Linked DNA regions of Homo sapiens. Each later gene encodes a partner of the first gene's protein in a complex. Each region holds a gene or a part of one and is shown in the gene's direction. Other genes may lie near its edges.

Region 1 (7,055 bases):
ATTCCTCCAAAGGTATGCAGAGTACACAGTCGCCTCTTAAGGTGGGATGAGGCCAGAGTAACAGAGAGAGTGGAAAGGGAGACTGTCATAAATATTGACTCTAGACAGGGAGAGAAAACCACTGGAGCTTAAAATTCCAGGCTCAGAGTAAGTTAATGAGCTACTAAAAAGACAAGGTAGTAGGACATGCATACTAGGACAATCAGACCTGAAGTTGGAGGAAAAATGTGAGGATACCCACTGAGCCAGGCAGACTGGTATAGTAGAAAGGGCATTGGCCACAAAAGCAAAAGCACAGAGTTTTTAGCCATGTTTCTGCCTGAGGGGGCTTTGGCTAAGTCACTTCACCTCTCTGAGTCTTTGTTTTATAATAAAGAAAAATTGAGATGATACAATTCAATAACAACAAAAACAACTTGATTTTAAAAATGGGCAAGCAAATTGAATAGACATTTATCTAAAGAAGATACAAATGGCCAGTAAGCACGTGAAAAGATGCCCAACATCATGAATCATTAAGGAAATGCAAATCAAAACCACAATGAGATGTCACCTCAAACCCATTAAAATGGCCATCAATTAAAAAACAAACAAACAAAAAACAGAAAAGAACAAGTGTTCATGGGAATGTGGTGAAATTGGAACCTTTCTATGTTGCTGGTGAGAAAGCAAAATGGTGCAGCCACCGTGGAAAACAGTATGGTGTATGGTGGTTCCTTAAAAAATTAAATGTATGATCCAGCAATTCCTTTTCTGGGCAAATACCCAAAAGATTTGAAAACAGGGACTTGAACAAATATTTGTACATCCATTTTCATGGCAGCATTATTGACTGCAGCCTAAAGGTGGTAGCAATCCATTCCTTGATGGACGAATAAATAAAATGTGATGTATGTACACAGTGGAATATTATTCACCCTTCAAAAGGAAGGAAATTCTGACATGTGCTACAACATGAATGAACTTTGAAGACATTTGCTAAGTGAAATAAGCCAGTCACAAAAGGACAAATAGCATATGATTCCACACATAGAAGGTGCTTAGAGTAGTCAAATTTGTAGAAACAAAGTAGAAAGGTAGTTGCCAGGGGCTGGGGAGGAAGGAATAGAAAATCGTGTTTAACGGCTACACAGTTTCACTTTGGGAAGATGAAAAAGTTCTGGAGATGGATGGTGGTGATGGTTGCCCAATAGTGTGAAAGTACTTAATGCCACTGAATTGTATAATCAAAATGATTAAAATGATAATTTTTTTGTTATGAATATTTTACCACAATTTAATTTTTTTTTTTTTTGAGACAGGGTCTCGCTCTGTAGCCCAGGCTGGCGTGCAGTGGCATGATCGTGACTCACTGCAGCCTTGACCTCACAGGCTCAATCAATCCTCCTGCCTCAGTCTCCTGAGTAGCTGGGACTACAGGTGCACACCACCACACCCAGCTAATTTTTGTATTTTCTGTAGAGATGGGGTTTCACCATGTTGCCCAGGCTGGTCTCAAACTCCTGGACTCAAGCATTCCTCCCGCCTCAACCTCCCAAAGTGCTGAGATTATAGGCATGAGCTACCGTGCCCAGCCAATTTTTAAAAATTGGAGAGATCAAAGCTTCCTGACCAGATTGCTCAGGTGTGCCACATGTAGGTTATTGGCATGCCAAGATATTGATCCCTTTCATTTTTGAATAGATCATGCAGAGCTGAGCACAGCTGAAATCCTCAGGCAGGTCACTGGAAGAGCTTCTTCTTACTCCAGTATGCTATACACATATTGTAATGTTTAAAATTTCAATATAATTTAATTATTATTTATACAGAATAAGTGCATGAAACAAAAATGCATAGCTCGGTAATTAATCTTAAACACCTGTGTAACCTTCACTTAGCTCAAGAACTAGAATATTGCCAGCATACCAGAAGTTAGGGTCGTGTGTTACCACCTAAGCAGGAATCCCCCAAAGTTCTGCCCTATATTTGGACATCATGTAAATGGAATCCTAGTATGAAAATGAATGAACTACAGCTACTCACAGCAACGTGAGTGAACCTCACAAACATCATATTGAATGAAATAAACCAGAGACAAAAGGAATACACCAGGCCTGTAATCCCAGTACTTTGGGAGGCCAAGGCGGGAGGATCACTTGAGGTCAGGAGTTCGAGACCAGCCTGGCCAACATGGTGAAACCCTGTCTCTACTGAAAATACAAAAAATTAGCCAGGCATGGTGGCGGGCACTTGTAATCCCAGCCACTCGGGAGGCTGAGGCAGGAGAATCACTTGAACTCAGGAAGCGGATGTTGCAGTGAGCTGAGATTGCACCACTGCATTTCAGCCTGGGCTGTAACAGAGTGAGACTCCATCTCAAACAACAACAACAACAACAGCAATTTTTAAAAATTTCTAAAAACCATACAATAACAACTATTTATACATGATGAAGGTGAGACCCAGAGAGTTAAAAATGAATTACTCTGGATCAAACACCTGGGAAATGGGAAATGGTGGCGTCAGAATTGAACTCAGGTGTTCTTTCTTTCTTTTTTGTTTTGTTGTTTTTTTTTTGGAGACAGGGTCTCGCTCTGTCATTGAGGCTGGAGTGCAGTGGCATGATCACGGCTCACTGCAACCTCTGCCTCTCAATCAAGTGATCCTCCCACCTCAGCCTCCAGAGTAGCTGGGACTACAGGCATGCACCACCATGCCTGGCTTTTTGTACCTTTTGTAGAGACAAGGTTTTGCCATGTGGCCCAGGCTGGTTTCGAACTCTTGAGCTCAGGCAATCTGCCCGCTTTGGCCTCACAAATTGCTGGGATTGCGATGAACTCAGGTGTTCTGATCCTAAATCCAGATTTTCCCATTCTACCTTCTGCTTTGAAAGATATAGAGGAGGCCAGGAGGGCTTAGCCCCGAGGTGGAGGAAGATAAGCTGGTATGAGGAAGCTGCTCAATGTCATTTTAAACCGTTTATCCATGGGCTCAGGTCATGTCTTTGTTGGGGGCCAAGCCAAGGCCCAGCAAAGACAAATGGCTCTTCCAGTGTGGGTGGAAGAGGGGTGAGGTCACCCAGTCCTCGGCCTGTGGTTTGCTTTGCCTCAGTGCCGGGAGCAATCTCTTGCCCTGATTTGCATTGTGGGCTGAGGATTCAGGTCAGTGAGAAGGCCAGTGATAGAATTGTCTGTGTGGGTGCTGCTGATAGGGATCAGCTGCTGATCATGGCTAGGGCTAGCGGCTGAGCACACGGGCACCAGCCTACTGCTCGGGCAGCAAGGCAGCAGGATGGAGGGGTTTGTAAAAATGCCTTCCACCTACCCTGCTGGGCTTGCCCGAGAGGCTCTGAGTGTGTGAAGGGGAAGACAATTATCGCTAGGCTGGAGAATAGAAAGAGCACCATCAGGTGAGAAAGAGAAGAAAAAAAGAGAGGGGAGAGAGTGGATAAGAAGAAGGAAGCCTGGGACACAAGAACAAGGGCTTTGCTTGCTCTAGGGCTTTGCTTGCTAAACTCCTAGGGAGCACACAAGTGAGAATCCAGGGCAGAGGGAAGCAGGATGGGTGCCCTGAGTGCTTGGCCCCATTTCCTGGGGCTTACTGGCCTCGTGGGTGGGAGTTTTATAGGCTACTGCTCCTTGGGGAGGCCTCAGTGATTGAGGATACTCCTGTATGAGCCTCGGCCCTGACCCCAGGATGGGGGACTGGAGGATCCTAACAGGATTGGGGGTTGGTTGGGTGTAACCAAGGTATCTGCCAAAGGGAGAGTACCAAGGAAAGCGGAGGCACCTCCTCCCTGGCTGTCCTTCACCCCCTCTCCCCTCCTTGTTCTCTGGGAGTGGCTGGCGAGCAGCGGCCTCCCCGCAGGGCCAGGCAGGTGGGCCAGAGCTTTTGGTTTGCTGAGGTTTGTCAGATTTTCCAGCTCAGGGCCCAGCCAGCTGGCAGGAAGCAGGACAGAGGTCACTTGAATTCAGACCACATGTCCCTGTTAAATACATTAGCTTTTAAATCAATCTTTGTTCAAAGTCCAGTGAGTTGCAAGCTTAATGCTCACCTGCAGAGACAGAATTCCTGAGTGAACGAACAGAGCAGCTCCTCTTCCATCTCCAGGTAAGAACTGCTCGTGTCCTCCTTGAGGGTGCTGGCCACCGGGGCCTGAACTACCTTCTTTCTTTTCCTTTTCCCTTTTTCTTTTTCCAAGCCAGTAGCTGGCTGTCTAGGGCAGAGAAGAGTCCCATGGGGAGGCAGCCAGGCCCCTTTGGCGGTGGTTGGGGGTGAGAGATGATCCACGCTCTGAGATTCTTTCTGCTGGAGATGCCCCTCACCTTTGTAGGCTAGGGTCTGCTTCACAAAGAAATTGGTAAACCGACCTCAGAAAAAGCCTTCCCGGGGTTGTGTGGGGGTTTGATGTGCAGCCAAAGGGAGTGAGACAACTGACTTCACAGGTAACCAGGCGGATATGCCCGGGACCTTCCTACTGATACAGGGGCCTTGGGTAGCAGAGAAGACTCTTCTGGAAGCAGCCTTTAAAGGATGCAGCCTAACTTAGCTTGCCCACTAGATAATAAAAGCAGGCATCTTTCCTCTCTGTATCACACTGCAGCACTAAGACATGAGAAAAACCAGTGGATTTCCAGGCTGGCTGAATTTTAAAACATACATTCCCCAGGCTCTCACCTTTGGCATTTCTAAGTCTCCAGGCCTTGTGTGAATTGAAAGATCTTTATTTGAAAACTCTCCCAGAATCATTCTGATCAGTGCAGGTAGGTTTGGGAACCACTAGTAGTTTATTTCTTAAGCAGAAGACTCATGAGACTTAAGTATGACACTTACCTAAGGGTTCACTCGCTATGAAGACTCCTGGTCTGGGTTGGGTCCAGCTATGAAGATTTGGGCGTTGGCTCTGAGAAACACATTCTTCTTTATTTACTAAAATCTCTGCAATGTGTCACCAGGGCAGCTTTCAGTCTTGTATCTAGAAGGCAAGAGGGGGTAGCAGGGACTGCCTCAGGCCATGATTGTCCAGTCATCTGAAGTCTGCAGCAAATTACTCAGGGTCTTTGAATTTCTGTGTTATGATAGTAACTTGTGCTTATCTTTGACTTTTGTATGTTCTCTGCACCATAGGGTGTGAAGTTGCTGGTAATGATGTCTTATATTCATAGACCACTGGCTAGGCAGCTACTTCTCCCCCAGGGGAAAGAACATAGGACTGGAATACAAATCATCAGAGTTTTGATTCAGTTGCTAGTGACAGGCCATTAGACAAACTACTTAGCCAACTGGAGCCTCAATTTCATTATTGATCAAGTGAAGGTCTGTCATCTTTTCCCCAAGAGTGTACTGAAAATAAAATTATAAGTACAAATGTGTGGTCCTGCATGGTGGCTCATGCCTGTAATCCCAGCACTTTGGGATGCCCAAGCGGGAGGATCACTTGAGGCCAGGAGTTCGAGACCAGCCTGGGCAATGAAGTGAGACCCCCGTCTCTACAAAAAATAATAATAAATTAATCCTGCATGGTGGCATGTGTCTGTGGTGTCAGCTACTTGGGAGGCTGAAATGGAAGGGTTGCTTGAGCCCAGGGGGTCGAGGCTACAGTGAGCCGTGATTGCATCACTGCACTCCAGCCTGGGTGACAGACTGAGATCCTGTCTAAAAAACAAAAAACCATGAATATGTTAAAAACACGATGTAAGATGCCTAGATTTCAAATGTGTATATCGAAAGTCTCTGTAGAATAGTAAGAAGAAACAAATTGCAGTCACTTGGGAAACCTTGTCCTAGTCTTTTAATCTCATTGAGCCTCTGTTTGCTCACTTACAAATAAGAAGTTGAGACCAGATCATCATTAATGTCTTTTTCAGTTGGCCAAGTATAAGGTAGATCCTGGAGCCTTGAAGGGTAGCTCCTTGTCATTGGGGTATGAATTAAAATGTCACCTCCCAGGAAGGACTTTCTAAATCAGCCTCCCACCTCCATGCCACCAGTATCTCTATCATTCACAGCGTGTACCATCAGAAATCATCTCATTTGGGCTGGGTGCAGTGGCTCACATCTGTAATCCCAGCACTTTGGGAGGCTGAGGCAGGTGGATCACCTGAGGTCAGGAGTTCAAGACCAGCTTGGCCAACATGGTGAAACCCCATCTCTACTAAAAATACAAAAATTAGCCGGGCGTGGTACTGCCTGTCTGTAGTATTAGCTACTTGGGAGGCTGAGGCAGGAGAATTGCTTGAACCTGGGAGGTGGAGGTTGCAGTGAGCCAAGATTGTGCCATTGCACCCTAGCCTGGGTGACAAAGTGAGACTCCATCTCGAGAAAAAAAAAATCATCTCTTTTACTTGTCACCTTTGCCAGATGTTAAGCTTCAAGACTGCAGGGATCTTGTCATTTGTGTTACTTGCTGTATTACCAGCCCCTTGAGCACTACCTGGCATAGAACATATTTGCATAAATGGAATTAGTGTGGCAGGGAAGGAGCTAGAAGAATAGATGCAGATGGCGATGGCTTTGATGAGGTGTTCCTCAGGAAAGGAGGTTGAAGGACTCCAATCCTCTCTCAGGGCATCTGAAGTCCAGGGTCTAATCATATGGGAATGGGTTTCTCTGGTCACTTCTTAGTGAAATGATTCTTGCATTCGTTGCATAGGGATGCAATGAGAGTGGCAAGCTGGAGCTAGACGTGTTTTCCTCAAGATCTCAGCAACTTCTTTCTTTGGTCCTTCATGAGGGACTGCCCAGATTTCCTTAATCTCTTTGCCTGATGGGTATCATGGCTAAGTGATTAAGAAAATGAGCACTGGGATTGGAAACCTGCACTCTAGATCAGGCTCTCTAAGCTTCTATTTCCTTGTCAGTCAAATGGGCATATTAGAACCTAGTTCCGGAAGTTATGAGGGTTAAATGAATGCACATAGTGTCTAGCACATCTTAAGTGCTATTGAGATAATCTTCAGACAGCTTTGCTATTACATGACCCCCGGAAATGAAGGAACCCAGGGAATGGCAGGAGTTTTGGAAAGTAGAAAAGATAGCCCTAGCCCACTTAGTGGCAACTAGAGAAGGTTTGC
Region 2 (7,024 bases), on another chromosome or scaffold:
TCACCATGTTGGTCAGGCTGGTTTTGAACTCCTGACCTCAGGTGATCAGCCCGCCTCGGCCTCCCAAAGTGCTGGGATTACAGGCATGAGCCGTCATCCCTGGCTGGTGGTTTCTTATGACGTGAAACATGCAATTACCATATGACCTAGCAGTTGCACTCTGTATTTATCCCAGATAAATGAAAACTTACCTTCCAATAAAAACCTGTGCACAAATGTTCATAGCAGCTTAATATTGAAAAACTGGATGTTCTTCAGCAGGTGAATGAACTGGTTCATTCATACCATGGAATACCATTCAGCAATAAAAAGGAACAAACTGTTGATACATTTAACCACCTGGATGAATATCAAGGGAATTATGCTGTCAGACAAAAACCAGTCCCTAAAGACTACATATAGTATGATTCCGTTTGGATAATATTCTTGAAATAGAGAAATTAAGAGAAATGAAAAGATTAGTGTTTGCCAGATGTTAGAGACAGGGAGGTGAGAGGGGTAAGTGGGTGTAGTTATAAAAGTGCAACATGAGGGATCTTTGTGATGTTGAAGTTGTATCTTGGCAGTGGATGCAGAAATCTCAATGTGATAAAATTACAAAGAACTAAAAACAAGAATGAGTATAGATAAAACTGGGGAAATCTGAACAAGTTAGAGTGTTGTATCACTGTCAGTATCTTAGAGTGATATTGTACTATAGCTTTGCAAGATGTTACCATGGGAGAAACTAAAGTGTACAAGGGATCTCTAGGTATTATTATTTTTTTAGAGATGGGGTTTCACTATGTTCCCCAGGCCGGTCTTGAACTCCTGGGCTCTAGTGATCCGCCTGCCCCAGCCTCCTAAAGTACTGGAATTACAGGCGTGAGCGACCATGCCTGGCCCTTTCAGTATTGTATCTTAGAACTTCATGTGAATCTAGCATTATCTCATAGAATTTAATTAAAAGAAATTGTAAACCTCACAGAAGATCAGAATTTCCTCAAGTTTGTGATGTTGACAAAGATGAACTAGTTGACACTGACAGTAAGACTGAGGATGAAGACACGACGTGCTTCAAAAAAATGATTTGAATATCAATGGATTAAGAAGAACTCTTTTGACAAATTGATGAAACCCTCAGTCAGTTTTATAAGAATGCCCATCTTTATGATCATGCTATGAAAGCCAATTTTTAAAAAAATTTTTTGTCTTTCCTAACAATTAGCTTGTGGTTATAATTTAAATTTAGTTAAATATAAGATAAATGATTTTTTATTAAGTTTAGTTTCATTTTTCAAGGTACGATCTCAAAGCTACTCTTTAACCTACTATGAATGAATAATGCTGAGTTCATAACATCTTTGTAGATATATCCACAATTTTCCCTCAGGATAAGTGCCTACAAGTGGAATTACTGGACTGAAAATAATGCAGTTTGCTAAGACTTTGCTATCTGTTCCTGAATGCTCCTCCAAAAAGGTTTTGCCAGTTTACATCCTCATGACCAGCGAATGAGAGTGTTGCCTATTTTCCTGTGCCCTTGTTACTGCTTAATAATTTTTGAAAAAAATCTAATTTGACAGACAAAAATGCATTTTATGTTAATTTGCTTTTCTGGGATTTTTAATGAGGTTGAGTATAGTTTTTAATATTTTTATTGGCCCCTTTGGAACTAGTATCATAAGTTTTTTTTCTTAAGAATTTATGTAGTCTGGGCTGGGCGCAGTGGCTCACGCCTGCAATCCCAGCACTTTGGGAGGCCGAGGTGGGTGGATTGCCGAAGGTCAGGAGTTTGAGACCATCCTGACCAACATGGTGAAACCGAATCTCTACTAAAAGTACAAAAACTAGCTCAGCGTGGTGGCGGGTGCCTGTAATCCCAGCTACTTAGGAGGCTGAGTCAAGAGAATCGCTTGAACCCGGGAGGTGGAGGTTGGTTGCATTGAGCCGAGATCGCGCCATTGCTCTCCAGCCTAGGCAACAAGAGTGAAAAGTCTCAAAAAAAAAAAAAAAAAAAAAAAAAAGAATTTACATGGTCTGAATTGCCATTAAAAGAGATATGAGAATTATTGAGTAACAAATAACTTTTTAATAATTTAGGCAAGTTTTGGACGATTGTACTTTGTTTAGAAACCAAAAGCATAGTATTTGTAGTTTTTTTATTTACTTTAGTTGCTAGGAAGTAAACTTTATTCAAGGTCTCTGGTACCAGTTGTTGCTAAAAGTGATTGACTAATCTGTCAATCTGAAATTATTTGTTGCTGAACTGCTAATTCTTTTGCTTCTATCTTTTAGGCAGATCTTGTCTGGACTACCAGACTCAAGAGACCAAATCAAGCCTTTCTAAGACCCTTGAACAAGTCTTGCACGACACTATTGTCCTCCCTTACTTCATTCAATTCATGGAACTTCGGCGAATGGAGCATTTGGTGAAATTTTGGTTAGAGGCTGAAAGTTTTCATTCAACAACTTGGTCGCGAATAAGAGCACACAGTCTAAACACAGTGAAGCAGAGCTCACTGGCTGAGCCTGTCTCTCCATCTAAAAAGCATGAAACTACAGCGTCTTTTTTAACTGATTCTCTTGATAAGAGATTGGAGGATTCTGGCTCAGCACAGTTGTTTATGACTCATTCAGAAGGAATTGACCTGAATAATAGAACTAACAGCACTCAGAATCACTTGCTGCTTTCCCAGGAATGTGACAGTGCCCATTCTCTCCGTCTTGAAATGGCCAGAGCAGGAACTCACCAAGTTTCCATGGAAACCCAAGAATCTTCCTCTACACTTACAGTAGCCAGTAGAAATAGTCCCGCTTCTCCACTAAAAGAATTGTCAGGAAAACTAATGAAAAGTGAGTATGTGATTTTCTTGTGTGTACATATGTGTCTCACTTTCTTTTTTTAATTTACTAAGCAGAACTTCAGATGAGGAATAAAATGATTGGAATATTTTTTTTCTCCTCTAACTACTTGTAAATTTGGGAGAATTTGGAGAGTGTAGTAGAGTCAGATCAGTGTATGGAAAAGGAGCAGGAGTGACTGGACCTTCTAAGAAGTGTGTTATCAGAATTAGTAAATGAAGGGTCAAATGTCCTACTTTTCCCCTCCACTGATTTTGACATCAAACCATTATCCACATAGCCTTATTTCCTCCCTCGGTCTTAATTTTATTAATATTTTACTGCACTTTGCAGATAAAATTTTTAAAAAATTTTTAAAAATTGCCAATAAGTGACATTTATTAAGTTCAGTGCTTAGTGTATATTTGGATTTTATTTATTAGTCACAAGACCTTTGTGCAGGTAGTAGGCATGATTATCTTTTTTTTTTTGAGATGGAGTCTTGCTCTGTCGCCCAGGCTGGAGTGCAATGGCGCGGTCTCGGCTCACTGCAACCTCCGGGTTCATGCCATTCTCCTGCCTCAGCCTCCCAAATAGCTGGGACTACAGGCGCCTGCCACCACACCCGGCTAATTTTTTTGTATTTTTAGTAGAGACGGGGTTTCACCATGTTCGCCAGGATGGTCTCGATCTCCTGACTTTGTGATCCGCCTGCCTCGGCCTCCCAAAGTGCTGGGATTACAGGCATGAGCCACCGCGCCCGGACTGATTATCTTATTTACACATGAGAAAACCAGGGCTTAGAAAGGTTAGGTAACTTCCTCTAGGTTGTACAGTAAATGTGGACCTAGAAGCATTTTGACAAGAGCACCTGTTTTTTTTTCTTCTCTATTAGTTTAGAAATTATATACTCTTAATTATCACCTGGGATTTTGATTAGACAGCCTTCATGTTCTTTTTCATCTTAAATGTTCTTTGTGTCTTAAAGGGCTAAGTGATTTCTTCAGATCTTTTAGTTCACTCATTCTCAGTGAACTAAAATGAGGTCTAATCTGCTACTGAATCAAGTTTTCAGCATGTTATTTCCTTCCTCCCTCCCTCCCTCCTTCCTTCCCTCAACCAGGCTCCCGAGGAGCTGGGATTACAGGCGCCCGCCACCACTCCTGGCTAATTTTTATATTTTAGTAGAGACGGGGTTTCACCATGTTGGTCAGGCTGATCTTGAACTCCTGACCTCAAGTGACCCACCTGCCTCGGCCTCCCAAAGTGCTGGGATTACAGGCATGAATCACCACACCTGACGGCATGTTATTTTCATCGCAAAGTTACTGTAAGCTGGGAGAAGTGGCACACACTTGTACTCCCAGCTACTCAGGAAGCTTAAGGTGAGAAGATTGCTTGAGCCCAGGAGTTTTGAGACCAACCTGGGCAACACAGCAAGACCCCAGCTCAAACAAAGAAAAAAAGTTATTGAATTTTTTATTTCTATGGATCATTTTTTGTAGTTTCTTATTCCTTTCACCCTTCATTCCCACTTTTGATCCCATCTTTTATTTATTTAGTTTTATTAAATGTATATTTGTCTGATAATTCTGCTATCTACAGTTTTTTGTGGACCTGACTCAGCATTTCTTTGTTTCTTCGGATTCAGACTGTTGGTGGCTTGTGATTTTAGTGATTTTTGGCCGTGAACATGTTTCTTGGACTTTTGTCTGTGGGAATTCTCTGTGTACTCTGTATAAATTAAGTTACTTCAGGTGTTTTGCATTTTCTTTTGCCATGCACCTGGGGCCTGGGTCACTACCCTTCTGGTACCACTTAAAACTGAATTTTTGTCTTGGGTGCTCGTACTGATCCTGTATGAGTACAGGTTTATACTTACTGTAGAAATATGGTGTTTGATTATGGGGTATTGTCCCAGATGGTGCTGGAGTATTAATATGCTCTCTGTTAAACTTAATGTGTTGTCCCTGTAAAACTCCAAAATTCTGAATTCCAGAATACTACTGGCCCCAAATGTTTAAGATAAGGGCACTGCCTGTATTTGTTTCTGCCTCCCACTATTTTCCTTAGTTTAACACAAACTCACCTTTTTAAAAAACATTTTGAGAGAATTCAGTATTGGGAAGAGTTTCTAACCTGTTTCTGGAAATGGAAGTCCAAAGTCTGTTTCTGTAATTGTTTTTTTTTTGAGATGGAGTCTCACTCTGTCACCCAGGCTGGAGTGCAATGACGTACTCTCAGCTCACTGCAACCTCCACCTCCCGGGTTCAAGCGATTCTCTTGCCTCAGCCCCCTGAGTAGCTGGGATTACAGGTGCCCACCACCATGCCTGGCTGATTTTTGTATTTTTAGAAGAGATGGGGTTTCGCCATGTTGGCCAGGCTGGTCTTGAACTCCTGACTTTGTGATCTGCCCACCTCAGCCTCCCAAAGTGCTAGGATTATGTTTCTGTAATTGTAATACATTTATTGTTTTTAGAAACTGTCTTTGCTTTAGTGGTAATTTTCAATAAAAATAGAAATAGCAGTGGAGTTATTAAAAGAGCATTAGTTACATTTTTCCCTTTTTCATTATCTTCAAATATTATATATAGTAAGTTTGACCTTTTTAAAATGTATACTTGTATCAGTTTTAACACATACATAGATTCCTGTAACTGTCACCACTATAAGGGTAAAGAACAGTTAGTTCCTTCACCTTTGAAGTCAAGCCCCACCTCTATCCCAACACTTGGCAACCGCTGATCTTTCTCCGTCTCAATAGCTTTGCCTTTTCTCTTTTTTTTTCTTATTTTTTTTTTTGAGACAGCGTCTTGCTCTGTCGCCCGAGCTGGAGTGCAGTGAGGCAATCTCGGCTCACTGCAACCTCCGCCTCCTGGGTTCAAGCAGTTCTCCTGCCTTAGCCTCCCTAGTAGCTGGGATTATAGGCACGCACCACCACACCCGGCTGATTTTTTTGTATTTTTAGTAGAAATGGGGTTTCACCATGTTGGCCAGGCTGGTCTCAAACTCTTGACCTCAAGTGATCCACCTGCCTCGGCCTCCCAAAGTGCTGGGATTACAGGCGTGAGCCACTGTGCCCAATCAGGACTTTTTTTTTTTAAATTTACATTCAACTTGTCATTTTTTTCTTGTATGGATTGTGCCTTCAGAGTCACACCTAAGAGCCCTTTGCCTAAGCAAAGGTCATGAAGATTTTCTCATATGTTTCCTTTTAAAAGTATTGTGGTTGGCCAGGTGCCATGGCTTATGCCTGTAATCTCAGCACTTTGAGAAGCTGAGGTGGGCAGATTACGAGGTCAGGAGATCGAGACCATCCTGGCTAATGCGGTGAAACCCCATCTCTACTAAAAATACAAAAAAAAAAAAAAATTAGCCGGGCGTGGTGGCGGGCACCTGTAGTCCCAGCTACTTGAGAGGTTGAGGCAGGAGAATAGTGTGAACCCGGGAGGTGGAGCTTGCAGTGAGCCGAGATCGCGCCACTGCACTCCAGCCTGGGCAACACAGTGAGACTCCATCTCAAAAAAAAAAAAAAAGTATTATGGTTTTACACTTTACGTTTAGATATATATCTTTTTTGAGTTAATGTCGTATAAGTATGAGGGTTACGTCAGATTTTTTGTTTTTTGTTTATTTTTACATATGGATGTCTAGTTGTTCTAATACCATTTGTTGAAAAGACAACCTTTACTCCATTGAATTGCCTTTGTACTTTTGCCATATTTGTCTAGGCCTGTTTTTGGACTCCTTTTTCTGTTTCATGATGTGTGTGTCTATTCCTTTGTTAATACCACATGGTCTTAATTACTGTATAGTAAGTCTTAAAATTGGGTAATGCTGGCCTTATAAAACGAATTGGGAAGTTTTTATTTTTACTCTTATTTCCATTTTCTAGAAGAGATTGTGTAGAATTGGTGTCATTTCTTCTTTAGATATTTGGTTGAATTGGGAAGTGATGCCATCTGGGCCTAGGGTTTTGTTTTTTGTGTGTGAGACAGAGTCTCACTTCTGTCACCCAGGTTGGAGTGCAGTGGTGAGATCTTGGCTTACTGCAACCTCTGCCTCCCAGGTTCAAGTTATCCTCCTGCCTCAGCCTCCCAAATAGCTGGGATTACAAGCGTGTGCCACCATGCCCGACTAATTTTTGTATTTTTAATGCAGACAGGGTTTCACCATGTTAGCCAAGCTGGTCTCGAACT
Region 3 (7,864 bases), on another chromosome or scaffold:
GTGAACCCTGAAAATTTGAGACATGTCTTAGTTAATTAATTAATTTATTTATTTATTTGAGACGAAGTTTCGCTCTTGTTGCCCAGGCTGGAATGCAATGGCGGGGTCTGGGCTCACTGCAACCTCCGCCTCCCCAGTTCAAGCGATTCTCCTGCCTCAGCCTCCAGAGTAGCTGGGATTACAGGCGCCGGCCACCACGCCTGGCCAGTTTTCGTATTTTTAGTAGAAATGAGGTTTCACCATGTTGGTCAAGCTGATCTCAAACTGCTGACCTCAAGTGATCCTCCCCCCTCAGCCTCCCAAAGTACTGGGATTACAGGCCTGGCAGTCTCAGTTAATTTAGAAAGTTTGTTTTACCAAGGCTGAGGACTAGCTGGTGACACAGCCTCAGGAAGTTCTGATGACTTGTGCCCAAGGTGGTTGGGACATAGCTGGTTTTTTACATTTTAGGGAGATATGAGACATCAATCAATATATGTAAGAAATACATTAGTTCCGTCCAGAAAGGTGGAGACTATTTTTCTTTCTTTCTTTTTTTTTTTTTTGAGACGGAGTCTCTGCTCTGTCGCCCAGGCAAAAGAATATTTTTCCATTTACCTATTAATCTTTTTGTTATTGATTTATGCAGTTACTTATATAATCTGGACACAAATCCTTTGACAGATATATGTAACACAAATATTTTCTTCCCCTCTGTAAATTGTCTTTTGACAATTTGCAGAGTGGTCAACAAAAGTTCTTAATTTTAATATTGTCCAACATCTCTTTTTTTTCTTTCATGGTTACCATATTTTATATCTTATTTAAGAAATGCTGGCCAGGTACAGTGGCTCATGCCTGTAATTCCAGCACTTTGGGAGACCGAGGTGGGCTGATCACGAGGTCAGGAGTTTGAGACCAGCCTGACCAACATGGTGAAATCCCGTCTCTACTAAAAATACAAAAATTAGCCAGGCGTGGTGGCGCGTGCCTGTAATCCCAGCTACTCAGGAGGCTGAGGCAGGAGAATAGCTTGAACCCGGGAGGCGGAGGTTGCAGTGAGATCATGCCACTGCATTCCAGCCTGGGCGACAGAGCAGAGACTCCGTCTCAAAAAAAAAAAGAAAGAAAAAAAAGAAATGCTGACTTACTCCACAATCATAAAGATGTTCTCTTATGTTTTCCTCTAAAGACATTTTTTTTTACTTTAACATTTAGATAGGCAATCTATATAGAAATTATTTTTGTGTATGTTGTAAAATAAGGGTCAAAATAATTTAGGGGGTATGGATATTCAAATGGTGTTTATTTATTGAAATCAACATCATTTCCTTCACTGTATTACAGCATCATCTTTGTTATATACATTATGTGTGTGAATCACTTTCTGAACGCTGTGTTGTTTCATTGGTTGCCCTATGTTATCTGTGTCAATTCCACTCTGATATAATAACTATCTTTAAAATAGGTCTTAGATTGGGTAATACAATCCTCCACCATTATTCTTTAAGATTGACTTTGCTATCCTTGGCTCTTTGCACTTCCAAGTTGACTTTAAAAAGTCATCTTGTCATTTTCTATACTCACAAAACCTGCTGGGATTTTGTTTTAGAACTGTAGAATGTTTTGAGAAATGTTGACATCTTTACAATATGAGCCTTCCAATTCATAAGCATGGTATGTTTCCATTTATTTAGATCTTCTTCAATTTCTTTCAGTAAAATTTTATAGTTTTTAATATTGAGGTCTAGAAGATCTTTTGTTAGATTTATTCCTAAATCTATTTATATAAATAAATATATAAATGTATTCCTTAGATTTCCCTTTTCTATTTCTTTGTGACTGATGTTTGATACAATTTATTTTTGTGTATTTTAATTTAGAGAACTTGTTAAATATATGTTCCCTTTTAATTTCATATTTTCCTCTTCTCTCTGACTATATTAGATTCTATTAACTTAGAGCAGCAGTCTACTTTTGTGTATATATAACTAAAACTTTATCATATGTCATAATAAATGTTTTCTGATGTTGTAATCACTAAGGACACAAATATTCTTTACTCATCACTGATACTTAGATTCTTTCACTTTTATTGTTTGTCTCAGAATAGTTGGTGCTCATTTCTGTCTGGGAGGTGCTTTCTTTTTATCTCTTCTCTTTCTCCTTCTATCTGATGTTAGCAAAATAATAGGATTTAAGAGCCATCTTAATATTATATAAATGGCTCAAGACTATGCCTTGGGAGCCTAGGGTTCCAGTCCTTGCTTTGTCCCTTCTGAGTTCCTCTGAAATAGAATAGGAGAGAATTTATGACCAGTGTTTCCCAAATTCCTAGCGTAAGAATTGCTAGAGGTGCTCGTTGAAAACAAAGATTCTTAGATCCCTACCGAGATCTACTGAATTGGAATTTCCAAAGGAAAATGATTCTTATCCTCAGGGAAGTTTCACTCACATAGGACAAGATTAAGATTCCTTCCATCTCTGATATTATTCGATTCTGTGAATACTATCATTATACTGCCATAATCAAAAGAAGAATTTTGTCTAAACAAAGGAGTGTCAGAAAACCACTGCCAATACTCCAAAGTTTAGTATTTGGGATACCTATGAGCACAAATAAATTGGTACATTGCATACAGGTGCTATTCCATCTACTCTGCCAGATCAAGGAAAGCCACAACATAAGTGGATCTTCAAGGCATCTGTGCCTCTGCTAGTTAACTTGACTAGTAACTTCTGACCATTTATTTTCCAGCCAAAGTCATTAACCAAACCAATTCAGAAATGGCAGTGCTTCCTGAAAGAATAACTATACCTTAATTATTAATGCCACAGTCAGAAATGAAGCTGGACTCTTCTTTGGGTAAAGGTTGGTGGGAGACAGTAGAAATGAGGGGTGTAATAGAAGCTGAGAAGATATGGTCAAAGTCTGAGTTAAAGTTTAGAGAGGAAAAGACAGTTTATCCTGGCCCTATTTGTCAATAAATTATTTGAATAGTTAAAGTAAAAATTTTGTGAGGGATAGAGTTATAGGTTTTCTCTCTTGTATTTTCAAATAAAATAATTCATTCTGATGTTGCCTGACCTTGTTGATTTAGTCTTCATTTTTCTTATTTCTTTTATAGCTCTCTAGCCTTTCTTTTCCCTTTTCTTTTGACAAACAACTAGAGGGGCACCATGCTCTTTTCTTATCCTTTTACTTCTTTGGCTTGACAAAAATAACACAGCATAAAATGCACCTAGCATTATGATGTTTGTTCTTGTTCCTCTTCTGATAAGGACTAAATGTATAATTAAGGAAAATGGTGTTCACAACAGTACCTAGAAAGTAACTGGTTCACAATTTTTGCTCAAATTAAATTTTATTTATTAAATGAAAGAATAGATTAATCTTGAAGTGAGAAAATGAAAATATAAGGAGTGACTTTAGCAAAGAAGAACAATGGTTCCCAAATGTATATCACCAATCCTTTTCTCTCATTTTCTTTAGCCCCACCTCTTTAATTGCTTATAGGCTATTTCTAGCTGAACTTTTATGATGTTGAAAACAAAAGTCTCCTTCCTTCCTTCCTTTCTTTTCTTTTCTTTCTTTCCTTTCTTTCCCTTCTTTTCTTTCTTTCTTTCCTTTCTTTCCCTTCTTTTCTTTCTTTCTTTCAAGTCTTGCTCCGTCGCCCAGGCTGGAGTGCAGTGGTGGGGTCTCGGCTCACTGCAACCTCTGCCTCTTGGGTTCAAACGATTCTCCTGCCTCAGCCTCCTGAGTAGCTGGGACTACAGGCGCGTGCCACCACACCCAGCTAATTTTTGTATTTTTAGTAGAGATGGGGTTTCACTATGTTGGCCAGGCTAATCTTGAACTCCTGAGCTGTGATCAGCCCACCTCGGCCTCCCAAAGTGTTGGGATTACAGGCGTAAGCCTCTGCACCCAGCCAAAACTCACCATCTTTCTTATCTTCCAAACTCAGTTTTATGATGACTTTCCTTCTCCAATGCATTTTAATCCTCTGCATTCCTACATTCCATTTATGTAACCTCCATACCTGAATAATGACTGACACTAACTCCACTTTTCCCAGCTGTCATGGCATAGTGAAAATTCCAGATCTGCCACTTAGTGGACAGGTACTTTGAACAAATTTCTTAACCTCTGGGAACATTACTTTCTATAAAATGGGGATAGTAATATGAATTAGAATAAATATATATGTTATAGATATACAACATAGATGTAATTCATATATATTAACCTTTCAATAGTAGATGTTCAATAAATTACAGCTATTGTTACCCTGAAATCAGTTTTTCTTTTTTTTTTTTTTTGGAAATGGAGTTTCGCTCTTGTTGCCCAGGCTGGAGTGCAATGGTGCAATCTCAGCTCACCGCAACCTCCGCCTCCCAGGTTCAAGTGATTCTTCTGCCTTAGCCTCCTGAGTAGCTGGGATTATAGGCGCCCGCCACCACACCCAGCTAATTTTTTTTTTGTATTTTTAGTAGAGACGGGGTTTCACCATGTGGGCCAGGCTGCTGACCTAAAACGATCCGCCTGCCTGGGCCTTCCAAAGTGCTAGGATTATATGCGTGAACCACCGCGCCTGACCATGGAATCAGTTTTTCAATCTGTGCTCGAGGTGTTGTGTTCTTAACTATCTTCTACTCCTTTGCAAAGATAATCTTTCTTAAACATAGACTTTCTAATCAGTTCTCTAGCATTGTTTCATTCTGTCTTTGGCATGTTTTCACTTTGCTGTGCTGTACTTTTACACATTCTTTTTAACTATAGCTTCCTGCTTTGCTCTGGATCAGGAAGCTATTGAAGCTGACACCCACAGAGTTAAACTGAGTTGCTGAAGCCACCAGCTCCCCCTCCCAGTCCTTCTTTTCAGAGTAGGCTGGCAGCTGTCCTAACTGCCTACTAAAGCCAAATGCTTGAGGAGAGAGAGAGAGTAAGGAGCCAGCCATGAATCCTTTCCAGAAAAATGAGTCCAAGGAAACTCTTTTTTCACCTGTCTCCATTGAAGAGGTACCACCTCGACCACCTAGCCCTCCAAAGAAGCCATCTCCGGTGAGTCCTTAGATTCAATCCTGCCTCTGAGAGGAATGGCCTCCCTCTTTTGGCTCTCTTCCTTGGGCTCTGGAGCTTCCAGCTGAGCTGTATTAGGGTATTAAAATGCTTCTCTCTTGGATTTAGAATTCACCTGAAACCAAATCTAAACAGAAGCTTCCTTTACATAAGAAGACAAAGCAGCAGGAAGAGGTAGTCAAAGTTCTTCAGTTGGGATCCAGGGACTTGCTGAATTTCATTGCATATTCTGTTTCCCTGGGGGAAAAAAGCAATTCGAATGTCCAGGGAAACTTGGCAAGCATTCTTGTCTGAAGAACTGTGTGTGATTGTTCTTTCTTTACCAATATAAAAACTCTGCCCTTAGTTCTCCCTGTGTGCAGAGTCTTCTGCTGAACACCAATGGAAGTTTCAGAATAGATCCAATTTCTGTTACTATGTGTTCCCAGTTTACTGTGGGAGATAGGACAGAGAAACAGAGAATAGTAATGTTTTGCATTTATATACTCGCTAAAGCACTTCTAAACTCATCATCTCAGTCAATTCTTACACTAAAATTCTGTAAGTGGGGAGGATATAGTAATGATAGCCAAAATTTACTGAGTTCTTACAGTGGGCCAAAAGGTGATGTTATTCTCATTTCTTTGGAATAACAGAACAGAGGTTTTGAGACAGGTGTAGTGACAATGCCAGTATCAGTATGTTAACACAGCCAGTGGCAGTGTTGCCTAACTAGCTAACAGTGTGTCGGCTAAACTCCAGATTGCATAATTCTCAAGCTGTGAGCTGCAAAGGTAAGAAGCCCAGTTCATTGTATGTTTCAAACAAGCTATTATAAAACATTAAAATATATTAATATTTAGGAGGATCATTTATATATATCCCTAGGGTTAAAAGAATAATACATTACTTTATTATTTTGCCTATTTTTTTAGTTAATGATATCTCTTCTGGTCCCAAAGAATTTAGGGCTACTTGCAAAGATGTATATACTTCTCATGAAATGAGGCAATATAAATCTTACAAGATTTGACTGTACTGAGGACAGATACCTCTATGTCTCTTCTCATGTTAGTTGGTCTATTGTAATAGATAGGGAATTAAAATAAAACATAACATTCCTTATATTCTGACTGATATATTACATGAAAAGCATAATTCTTTTAATGTCCAGTAGGATTATCATGAAAATGTTATAGAATCTCTTTAGTAGGAAGAGTAGACATTTAATTTTACAGGATTTAAGAACTCTGCCTAAAGTCAAGGTGATCAATTAGCTTACCCTTAGGAATCTCTGTCCTCCATGTTGGGCTCTGTGCCTGACTCCAGCAGCCTCTGAAGTAGAAGCTATCATATTGCCAGGATTCCTCCCAGCATGGCAAACAGAACAGCTGGGGACAAGAGTCCCCATAGTGGGGCTAAGCAGAGACTGACATCTGAATCTCACTGCTTGGATATCAGGTATTCCATAGGCTACCTCTTTATTCTGTTCCTAGGAAGTAAATATCACCATTCTTCTGCCCCAGAGCCCTAGGCTTTTCATTTAGTAGTTGTGGGAAGATGAGCAGGTCCAAGGAATATTTGAGCAAGTCCATGTAAAATAAATAAGAAACAAAATAATATTCAGAGTAGCTTCTATTATTTCTAAATCAGTAATATAAGCACTTTTAGTGTTACCTAATAGGTGTGTCATGAAGAGTAGAGACCATTGCTCCATTACCTACCAAGATGATTTGAAATAAATGAATTTTTCAGTTTTGAAGAAATCTAATTGTTGAAACAGGGAAAAACAGCTCATGCTTGAATCATTGCCTTCTTGTTGAATAGACAATCTGTGGCTCCAACTATCCACTGAGCATTGCCTTCATTGTGGTGAATGAATTCTGCGAGCGCTTTTCCTATTATGGAATGAAAGGTAATTTTGTGTCCAAGAGTCCTACCTACTCTCCTCCACCCACCCTCACCCCATGTTTGTGACAGCCTGGTCTCTTTATATGCACTTATTTCCCGAGTCCACTCTTTCTGCCTTGGTCCAAATTGGTCCTTTACTTTGGCCAAGACTTCCAATAAATCTCTCATAGGATTTCACCTAATATGTAGGCCAAGATCAGAAAGGCCTGAGACAAACCAGAACATAGACTTTGAGAATGGGTAAGTGGGTGGAGCTGGGCATGATGGCATGTGCCTGTAGTCGCCACTACTTGGGAGGCTGAAGCAGGAGGATTGCTTGGGCCCAGGAGTTCAAGGTTATCAGGCACCTGTAATTGTGCCAGTGAATGGCCACTGCACTCCAGCCTGGGCAACATAGCAAGAACTCATCTCCAAAAAAAAAAAAAAAAAAGGGGGGGGAGGGAAAGCTCTCATTATCTCAGTTACATTTTTCATACCTGTTCCTCAGGTATGAGCTAACAGCTCTTGGCTAAGGGCTCATACCTGAGGAACAGGTATGAAGAATGGAATTCAGATAAGAGGTCTTATCATCTTGTTGCTGGGAAGGAGAGGAGAGGGAAGGGATATTGGAAGCACCATGTTATGTTCATGGTTGGCCTAAATGATGCTAGGGGTGCACATAGACTGAAGGGAGGAGTATTATATTTGTACATTCAACATAGTCCCATTCACTCCCACAACTCCCATGGGGCCCTGCTTCTACTGCCTGGCAGTCACTTCTCAGTCATGTCACTGATAGGAGTGCTGAAGGCCAAAATCACATTATAAAGACCAGAGATTAAATATTTTTTTCCATAAGTCACTTTAATGCATCTATCTTGTTTTGTCTCCCCACGCCTCCTTTTTTTTCCCACTACAGCTGTGCTGATCCTGTAT

Evidence for each region.
Region 2: the proteins of PDZK1 (region 1) and AKAP10 are in contact, whole or in part, in a crystal structure (PDB 3TMH), measured with the Homo sapiens proteins. Residues at the interface, in NP_001188254.1 of Homo sapiens: Asn386, Gly387, Tyr388, Gly389, Phe390, His391, Leu392, Asn393, Ala394, Ile395, Arg396, Phe402, Lys404, Tyr436, Glu437, Val440, Ile443, Gln444; in NP_009133.2 of Homo sapiens: Pro655, Leu656, Glu657, Lys658, Ser659, Thr660, Lys661, Leu662.
Region 3: the proteins of PDZK1 (region 1) and SLC15A2 are in contact, whole or in part, in a crystal structure (PDB 6EZI), measured with the Homo sapiens proteins. Residues at the interface, in NP_001188254.1 of Homo sapiens: Asn386, Gly387, Tyr388, Gly389, Phe390, His391, Leu392, Asn393, Ala394, Ile395, Arg396, Gln407, Tyr436, Glu437, Val440, Ile443, Gln444; in NP_066568.3 of Homo sapiens: Glu723, Thr724, Lys725, Lys726, Thr727, Lys728, Leu729.

Annotation. Positions count from the first base shown.
Region 1 is NC_000001.11:145,704,354-145,711,408, reverse strand, and holds the start of PDZK1 (Na(+)/H(+) exchange regulatory cofactor NHE-RF3), read left to right. Parts: upstream 1-4,040; 5' UTR 4,041-4,092; intron 4,093-4,585; exon of another isoform or gene 4,586-4,745; intron 4,746-7,055. UniProt on the Homo sapiens protein: A scaffold protein that connects plasma membrane proteins and regulatory components, regulating their surface expression in epithelial cells apical domains.
Region 2 is NC_000017.11:19,953,825-19,960,848, reverse strand, and holds part of AKAP10 (A-kinase anchor protein 10, mitochondrial isoform 1 precursor), read left to right. Parts: intron 1-2,277; coding exon 2,278-2,835; intron 2,836-7,024. UniProt on the Homo sapiens protein: Differentially targeted protein that binds to type I and II regulatory subunits of protein kinase A and anchors them to the mitochondria or the plasma membrane.
Region 3 is NC_000003.12:121,889,541-121,897,404, forward strand, and holds the start of SLC15A2 (solute carrier family 15 member 2), read left to right. Parts: upstream 1-4,860; 5' UTR 4,861-4,936; coding exon 4,937-5,041; intron 5,042-6,865; coding exon 6,866-6,953; intron 6,954-7,847; coding exon 7,848-7,864. UniProt on the Homo sapiens protein: Proton-coupled amino-acid transporter that transports oligopeptides of 2 to 4 amino acids with a preference for dipeptides. Transports neutral and anionic dipeptides with a proton to peptide stoichiometry of 2:1 or 3:1.